2 separate regions of the Homo sapiens genome follow, and region 2 is linked to region 1. The links come from fine-mapping of genetic effects on plasma protein levels. A gene starts in region 1. The other region holds a variant in brackets. All regions are shown on one strand. Distances are from middle to middle. Region 1 holds the start of VEGFD (vascular endothelial growth factor D). Region 2 overlaps PIR (pirin).

Evidence for each region. A credible set is the group of variants that fine-mapping cannot tell apart. PIP is the posterior inclusion probability: the model's chance that the variant is causal. The UK Biobank Pharma Proteomics Project read protein levels with antibody pairs (Olink). The fine-mapping took linkage between variants from a reference panel, not from the people measured, so its PIPs are less certain.
Region 2: its variant is the best candidate, but not a certain one, in a credible set for the plasma level of the VEGFD protein (UK Biobank, PIP 0.88).

Annotation. Positions count from the first base shown.
Region 1 is chrX:15,381,491-15,386,027 of GRCh38, reverse strand. VEGFD (vascular endothelial growth factor D) reads left to right here and starts at 1,615. Exons shown (of 7, transcript NM_004469.5): 1 at 1,615-2,171. The coding sequence starts at 2,082. It overlaps PIR (pirin), which reads left to right. Exons shown (of 10, transcript NM_001018109.3): 10 at 912-1,229. The coding sequence ends at 1,024. All of the region lies in intron 9 of PIR-FIGF (PIR-FIGF readthrough), which reads left to right.
Region 2 is chrX:15,426,734-15,430,733 of GRCh38, reverse strand. The region is part of intron 5 of PIR (pirin); the gene reads left to right. The region is part of intron 4 of PIR-FIGF (PIR-FIGF readthrough); the gene reads left to right. Among named protein-coding and RNA genes, the nearest start is that of VEGFD, 44 kb to the right of the region's middle. The variant C/TC (reference allele first, on the strand shown) is at 1,523.

The DNA.
Region 1 (4,537 bases):
GATCATGGGGGTGAGACAGTCCAGTGCCTCTCTGCCCCTACAATATATGAAGAAAGGGGAAGAAACACACATTGCCTCCTGGTAGATTAGGGGAGGACTTCTTGTACATTTTTAGCAAAATCCGAGTTCAGACCCAGCAATTAGACAAAAGGGTCAGCAAACTATGGTCGATGGGCTACATCTGCCCACTGCATGTTTTTGTAAATGAAGTTTTATTGGGACACAGCCATACCTATTCACTTTTGCATTATCTATGGCTGCTTTTGCACTTTGATGAAAGAGTTGAGTAGTTGAGACAGACACTGTTTGACCCACAAAATCTAAAATACATACTATCTAGCCCTTCCTAGCAAACATTTGCCAACCCCTAGAAAACTTTTAAAAAATGATGCTCTTCGACTTGAAATTTTTATAATCTTCTGTTTATTGTCAATAGGTGCTGCTGATTTTCAAAAAATGACTTAGAATCCTCAAATAAGTATACAGCCTTATATGCTGCTTAGACACCAAAGCTATGATAAGATTTGTCAGTTCTTTGTATCAGATGGGTTCAATTCTTGACATCAGCTAATGTTATAAAAATAACTACAAAATTGGTTGTAATAGAACCAAATCTAAGACTCTTTTTAATAAAAAAGATCACCATTGCTGGTGAGAAACCTATACTGAATGGGTGAGATGCCATTGCATTTATCTGAAGTTTCGTCTTTATAATCAATAATCATATACAATCCTAGTCAAGAAACTCATCTTACAGTCCTTGGGGATTGAACACTGTGAAAATAAACTTTTACTCTTCGGATGTGCTTGGATTTTGTTTTAAATTAAGAACTACAGAAATATATATCATTTCTAGTGGTAGAGGAAAATATTGCCACCCAGAACTTTCTGAATGTCTCTTTCTGCCCTAGGTCCATTTGTGATGAACACCAATGAAGAGATTTCTCAAGCTATTCTTGATTTCAGAAACGCAAAAAATGGGTTTGAAAGGGCCAAAACCTGGAAATCAAAGATTGGGAACTAGTGGAAAGCGGAAGAGCAGGTCTTGATGTGTCCTAGAATTTTGCCATTTCTGAGATTGAGCCATTGAAGGCATTCCATTTCTAAAGCTTATTTAGCCGGTGCTTCTAAAGAATTCCACACTAACGTGATAACATGGTTTTTGTAACAATAAATGTAGGATATTTCCTGGCACATGCAAATAAACCTAATCATTGTTTCTTTAAAAATCAGTGTTTTTCATTTGAGATACCTAAGTTACTAAGCTTCTGTTTAAAAAGTCGTTTTGTGTATGTTTGCCTTTTTTTGCATGTATGGATGGATGTTTTTATTATTTTTGTGCATGTGCAGGTTTTAAAAATCATATTTGATTGCTTTCTGTGTGTCATTGGCAGCAGATGCATGAGCATCTGAGGTCCCTTCTTAAGCAATCCCACTGAGATACAAAGGTCAAAGCTATGTGCTGGGGTTTCATGTTACAGGTTATCTGCTTTAAAATAACGGCAGCCCTGAACATTTGAGTCAGTTCTTAAAACTGCCCTGCTATTGGTAGGGACGCAACAGGATTACAGCCAAGACTTCTCTGCATTTTCTGCCAAAATCTGTGTCAGATTTAAGACACATGCTTCTGCAAGCTTCCATGAAGGTTGTGCAAAAAAGTTTCAATCCAGAGTTGGGTTCCAGCTTTCTGTAGCTGTAAGCATTGGTGGCCACACCACCTCCTTACAAAGCAACTAGAACCTGCGGCATACATTGGAGAGATTTTTTTAATTTTCTGGACATGAAGTAAATTTAGAGTGCTTTCTAATTTCAGGTAGAAGACATGTCCACCTTCTGATTATTTTTGGAGAACATTTTGATTTTTTTCATCTCTCTCTCCCCACCCCTAAGATTGTGCAAAAAAAGCGTACCTTGCCTAATTGAAATAATTTCATTGGATTTTGATCAGAACTGATTATTTGGTTTTCTGTGTGAAGTTTTGAGGTTTCAAACTTTCCTTCTGGAGAATGCCTTTTGAAACAATTTTCTCTAGCTGCCTGATGTCAACTGCTTAGTAATCAGTGGATATTGAAATATTCAAAATGTACAGAGAGTGGGTAGTGGTGAATGTTTTCATGATGTTGTACGTCCAGCTGGTGCAGGGCTCCAGTAATGAACATGGACCAGTGAAGGTAGGTGAGCTCAATTTTTAATGTGATGAAGTTCTTTTTATTGGCTCATACAGAGGACTTTCTTTGCCCTCACTATTTTTGAAACAATATAAAAATGCAGAACCATCCTAGTAGTGGACTGGACAGGATATATCCTGCATTTCTTGGTGACTGTTCTGTTTCTTAGTCTTATTAAACTTCTGGCCATGAGTATTTGAAAATGCTGGGGTGGGGGTTGGTTGTTTTTTGAAGTTATGGTAGAACATGAGCAGTCTGGAATCTTTTTGGATGGAGAAGTTTCTCCTCGGTTGCATATGCAGATGGCACAGTGGTTTTTTAATGAAACATTGATTTGTTTTTATGACTGATAACTTTGTGGGCCATTTATTTTCAGGTCTTTGTGAGCAGCAGAGGTTAGTTTATTCGTTTGGTAAATTGAAAATTGCAGTGCTTTCTATGAACATTTTCTATCTGCTTTTGCAAATTACCAATTGCTGCCATCCAGAAAAATGTTTTCTCAGAGAGTGTTTGGTTTTTTCGCTTCTTGAAAGGTGTAAAATTCAACACTAATCAAATCTTTGGTTCTGTGAGCAAGCATCAAATAGAGCTTAACGAACAGAGAGTAATGCAAAAAATTAACCAGAATGTTGCTGACTGCTGGAACAATACTTAGCCCAATTTTATGCATTTCATGGATTATATATATTTTAAGCTTCTATTTTGAAAATGATTCGGATGTAATTGTTTTGACTGAAGTGGTGCTAAATCATTATTGATTTAGGAACTTCTGGCCTTGAAAAGACAATTAAATGTGAGTTTGAGTTTTTGTAGCTGTTGTTTAGGACGTGCATTTTCAACAGGGGTGATATCGCCCCCAGCAGGGGAAAATTGGTTCGTGGAGGGATGAAAAAGTTTTACCCTTTTGATACATCACGCACAGACGTACATACAGTACATATGGTATGTAGTTTAAAATACGTTATACATTCAAATTGCATAGGGGGAAAGTGTCTTCAAAGGCTCCTGGCTGGTGTTGGTGGCCTGGCGAGGGTGGGGGCTGATATTTAAAAATGTTGAACACTGAGCTGGAGGTGAGTGGGAAGTCACCTTGTCTGGCAGCCAGCACTTTTCTAACTTCTCAAATTCCAAATTTACATGGGAGAAATCACAGTGTTTGGCTCCATTTTACTGCCACCAGCCTTGATATTGGATCTCAAGGCCAGATTGTAGGTAAATGGGAATCTGACTGTAAGCATAGGTAACAGGAGAAAACGGTCTGACTTGTTTGAAGCAAGTAAGACTTTTCCGACTGTCCAGCTTTTTCGTAAGTTCATGAAACAGAAATCCTTTAGATGTGCTGGGCTCCTCGAGTTTTAAAATATTTCCATTTTCCTTGTAAAACATCACTTTATCTGATGGTATAATAAAGGAGACTGAATTGTTGGACATAAGTCATATTCTTTAGGTTGCTCAGCTCTTTCAAAGAGCACAAGCACCAAGAATGTCTCAGGTGTCCTGGGCACTGTGAAGTTTTATTTATTTATTTATTTATTTATTTGAGACGGAGTCTCACTCTGTCACCCAGGCTGGAGTGTAGTGATGCAATCTCAGCTCGCTGCAACCTCTGCCTCCCGGGTTCAAGTGATTCCCCTGCCTCAGCCTCTCGAGTAGCTGGAATTATAGGCACGTGCCACCATGCCGGGCTAATTTTTTGTATTTTTAGTAGAGACAGGGTTTCACTGTGTTAGCCAGGATGGTCTCGATCTCCTGACCTGATGATCTGCCCGCCTTGGCCTCCCATAGTGCTGGGATTACAGGCGTGAGCCACCGCGCCCGGCTGGCACTGTGAAGTTTTAAATGCTTTGAATGTACTGTTAATATATAAATTTGTTGAATGGAGTAACGAAGGAAAGCAGCTGAATTTGCATGTGACAGAAAACAAGTTGTTACACGTGGAGGATGCAGCATTATATACTTACTAATACGATTAGCAATTTTTTTTCAGAATATATCAGAATTTCCTTTAAAAAGTGAAGCTACATATACTGAACTTATATCCACCCTACCCCTCGCTCAATTAAATTATTTCTGATATGAAGGAAAGGATTGCCTATAGCTAAACAGAAGTTTTGGCATAGATATGACTGAGTGGTAAGGGATAATGAGATATATAATATTGGTTATAGTTTTCTTTTTTCCCCAACTTTTAAGAAAAGAAAATCTAAGAGGAAATAATGTTTCTAAATGTTAAAGTTCTTCTTGTTAAAATTAAAATGTAGTGTGAAAACATATTCATGGTGGTAATGGTTTAGGGTGGTGGTATTTGAATTTTTTGTTTTTTTTTTTTTACTTTTTGAAATAAAATGTTTTATTTATTATAAGAAATT
Region 2 (4,000 bases), 45 kb before region 1:
AAAGCAGAGGAAGGAAGCCAGCTTGACAAGGGTATCCTACCAAAAGCCAGGGTAAATGGGAAGTCTTTGAAGGACATAAGATGAAGGTAGTTGGAGTTTGGAAGGAAGTGGTTTTATAGACCTTGTTTTGTCTTGGTTGTTTTGTGGTCATTATTGGAGTGGTGTCTGAGACTCATTATGGGTTTGGTTCTGACATATTTATAGGGAAGGAGAGACAAGGTTTTCCTGGATTTGGTAGCAGCCCTGTTGTAGGTTAGCCAAAATGTACCCTTAATCTCTTATGAAGAATTGAATTACTTACCTTCTAGAAATATTCCCTGCATAATATTTGAACCATAATATTTTAAGCCATTAGGCTTTTGAAATATAGGCTAAAACTTTAAAGGAAAGTTTCCTAAATACTTTCAACACAGGATTGTGAAATGGAAAGAAAGACGAAAGGGGAAGAGCTTTGGATTTTAGTACCTCTGCAGGCATTATTAATCAGAACTGAAACAGAAAAAAAAGGAAAAAAAAACAAATTCACTAATAGAATTTGAGTGCATTAGCTCTGTGCATGCTGCAACGGATTTATAGGGGAATGTTTTCTTTTAGTTTCTTATGGACCAATTTGTTTGACTCTTGTGGAAATAGATTCATTGATAGCTAAGTTTTAACCAAAAAAGAATGATTTAATTAAATTATCATTCTATTTTGAGGTTCTATTAATAGTTTAATACTATACATAAAAATAAACAAAACAACACAGGAAACAATGTGCCTAATAGGAAGATTTCTTTATGGTTGAAAATCAGCAGGGTATGTAATGGAAAGATGGAATCCAGGTTTGCTCAAGGTACATTTGAGGCTGACATCATCACCTTTTTTTTTTTTCCCTTGAGACAGAGTCTCGCTCTTCCGCCCAGGCTGGAGTGCAGTGGCAGGATCTCGGCTCACTGCAAGCTCTGCCTCCCGGGTTCACGCCCTTCTACCGCCTCAGCCTCCCGAGTAGCTGGGACTACAGACGACCACCGCCACGCCCGGCTAATTTTTTGTATTTTTAATAGAGACGGGGTTTCACCGTGTTAGCCAGGATGATCTCTATCATCTGACCTCGTGATCCACCCACCTTGGCCTCTCAAAGTGCTGGGATTACAGGCGTGAGCCACCGCGCCCGGCCTCATTATAGATTATTTTAAATAGAATAATATACATTCAGTTTTGAAGGCTTTGGGGTAGTTTATTATTCAAGACATATGTTATATTGACACCCTCAATGATCCAGTTCCCAATATGAAAAGAATACTAGAATTGGAATCCTGTTTTAGGTTAAAGATGTTGTGAAAAACATCTGCAAAATGAATTAAAAATTTCCTCTTAGACTTTTTCACACTGTGAGACGATAGAATATATTTTGTGGCTTTATTAAAGTCTCTCATTGGTTTCTGTTTAAAATTTTTAAGATGAATACATAAATGAATATAGAACGTTCTGTGTGAGTGTGAATACACCTGCATGTGTGCTTGTGCCTGTGTAGTTGCAA[C/TC]TTAGAGAGGTAGCTACTATTTTTTGAACAATATGGATTAGGTTGAGAAGCAAGAGACAGGAAGGAAGAAGGAAAAAGAGCCAGCCAGGAGGGCAGACTGATGACTGAAGTTGAGGGCAAGAATACAGCGAGTTAACCAGAGCTTTCCCACCAACTCTCCACAGCTCTAGTTGCCCTCCCTCACCCCAGCCACATTCTCACTTCTCTTTAGCTCTAGTCTGAGAAATTGGAAGAGAATTTTAAAAATTAGAGTGTGGAGGAAAACATTACTTTTCTGAATCAGAATTTCAGAACCAGAAATAGACTTAAACAACAGCAAGTACCCTCACAAAATTTTCAGATGAGCGAATTAACCCAGAAGAAGATAAGTGTTTCGTTGGTCAGCAGAAAAAGCAATACCTCTAGCTGGGCACGGTGGCTCACACCTATAATCCCAGCACTTTGGGAAGCCGAGGCGGGCAGATGGCTTGAGCCCAGGAGTCCGAAACCAGCCTGGGCAACATGGCGAAATCCCATCTCTACAAGAAAATTTAAAAAAGAAAGAGAGAGAGAGACAGAGAGAAAGAAAGAAAGGTAAAGAAAGAAGAAAAGAAAAAGCAATACAGCATGAAAGACTCCTGACTTCCAGTTCAAGATTATTTTTATGGCCACATTCTGGGAGAGTGCTAGCAAAAATTAAAGCAAGAACCTCTTTGTGATGCATTTCTTCTCTGTTGGAAGGGATACTGCATCTGCCACTGAGGCAGAGGTTGAAAAAGATGCTTAAACCAAACAGGGATCTTTATCTGAAGGACAGCGAAATATTGCCTGAACAGAGGAGTCATTCGATATTATATGAAGTTTACCCTTAATCTTTTTAGAGGTAATTTTAGAAGTCCTCATCAGACAAAACCAGCCCCTTTCCAGATGGTGTCTTATACACCTAATGATCCTAGAGAATCAGATCCTGTGCCCCTTGTGTGCTGCCCTTCTTTTATGTGTGTTTCAAGCTCTCTGATTGATTGTGAATCTTTGGCCTCAGGTTGCACTTGATGTCACAGGTCTTTCTGGTTTCATTTATATATACACGGGGGAATTTGCTTTTCTAGTCTTTGAAGCTGTATTAATGCAGCTTGACCTTCTAAGCCATGCAAAAGTCTACCAGAGCATTTTAAACCCCAAAGCTTCAATTGGAGACATTCAGAGGAAAGGAAAAAAATCTTTTGATAGTCAAGATTACTCACGATTCTTTATTTCAAAATTTAATGTACAGACAATATATTTTGACCATACCAAATTCACCTGTCCTGAAGAGAAGCATTTTGCTACATGTAGGTGAAGATGTTGATGAATACCCCATATATATATATATGTATACATACACACACATATGCACACACACACACTTGTGTGTGTATATATGTATGTATATATGTATATAAAATCCCATGTATAGTAATACGGTTATTGACAGTATATGGAATAGTAATACAGTTATTGACGGTATATATATGTGTGTGTGTGTGTGTGTGTGTGTGTATGTACTGTCAGTACATATATTCATATATATCTTCATATATACATATATCTACTGTCAATAACTGTATTACTATACATGGAGTTTTCCATTATGAAACATCATTCAATAAATATTTATTGAACACCTAGCATTTGACAGACATAGTGGGTTGGCCCTGAGAATTCAGTAGTAACAAAGGCAGAAATGTTCATGTCCTCATGGAGCTTGCATCATTATTCTCCACAAAATTATGCCTTCATCAAGGAGAGTAAATAATTCTGGGCTCCAGATTCTCTCTTTTTGTCTAAAAATGCATGTATTTAATGAATGTAATCTTTTAATTAACATATAACATATACACAGAGAAGTACACAGATCAAGTATACAGCTCAAAGAATGTTTACCAAGTAAACACACTCATAAAAGCAGCAGCCAGGTTAAGAAACAGAACATTACCAGCCCCCAGAAGCCCCTTTAAAATCCTTTTCTACTTGCTAACCTTCCCAAGATAACTAATTTTGTGACTTCTGACATCATAAATTAATTTTGGCTTGTTTTGAACTTTGTAGAAATGGAATCATACGGTGTATGATCTTCTGTGTCTGTCTTCATTTGCTCAATATTATGCCTGTGAAATTCACCTGAGTTGTTGCATGTAGTTGAGTTCATTCATTCTCCTTGGTGTATAGTATTCCACTGTATATTACATTTCATTTATCCATTCTATTATTAAAGACATTTGGATGATTTCCAGTTTGGGGCTATTATCAGTTCTGTCACTATTAAGGTACTTGTGCCTGTCTTTAGGTGACTGTTAGGTATACACCTATGAGTTGGAATATTGGGTCATAGATTATGCATATATTCGTCTGTGCTACACATGGCCAAGCAGCTTCCCAAAGTGTTTATACCAAGTTATAGTCCCACCAGCAGTGTATGAAAATTACAGTTACTACACATCCGTGCCAAGCTTAAGGTTA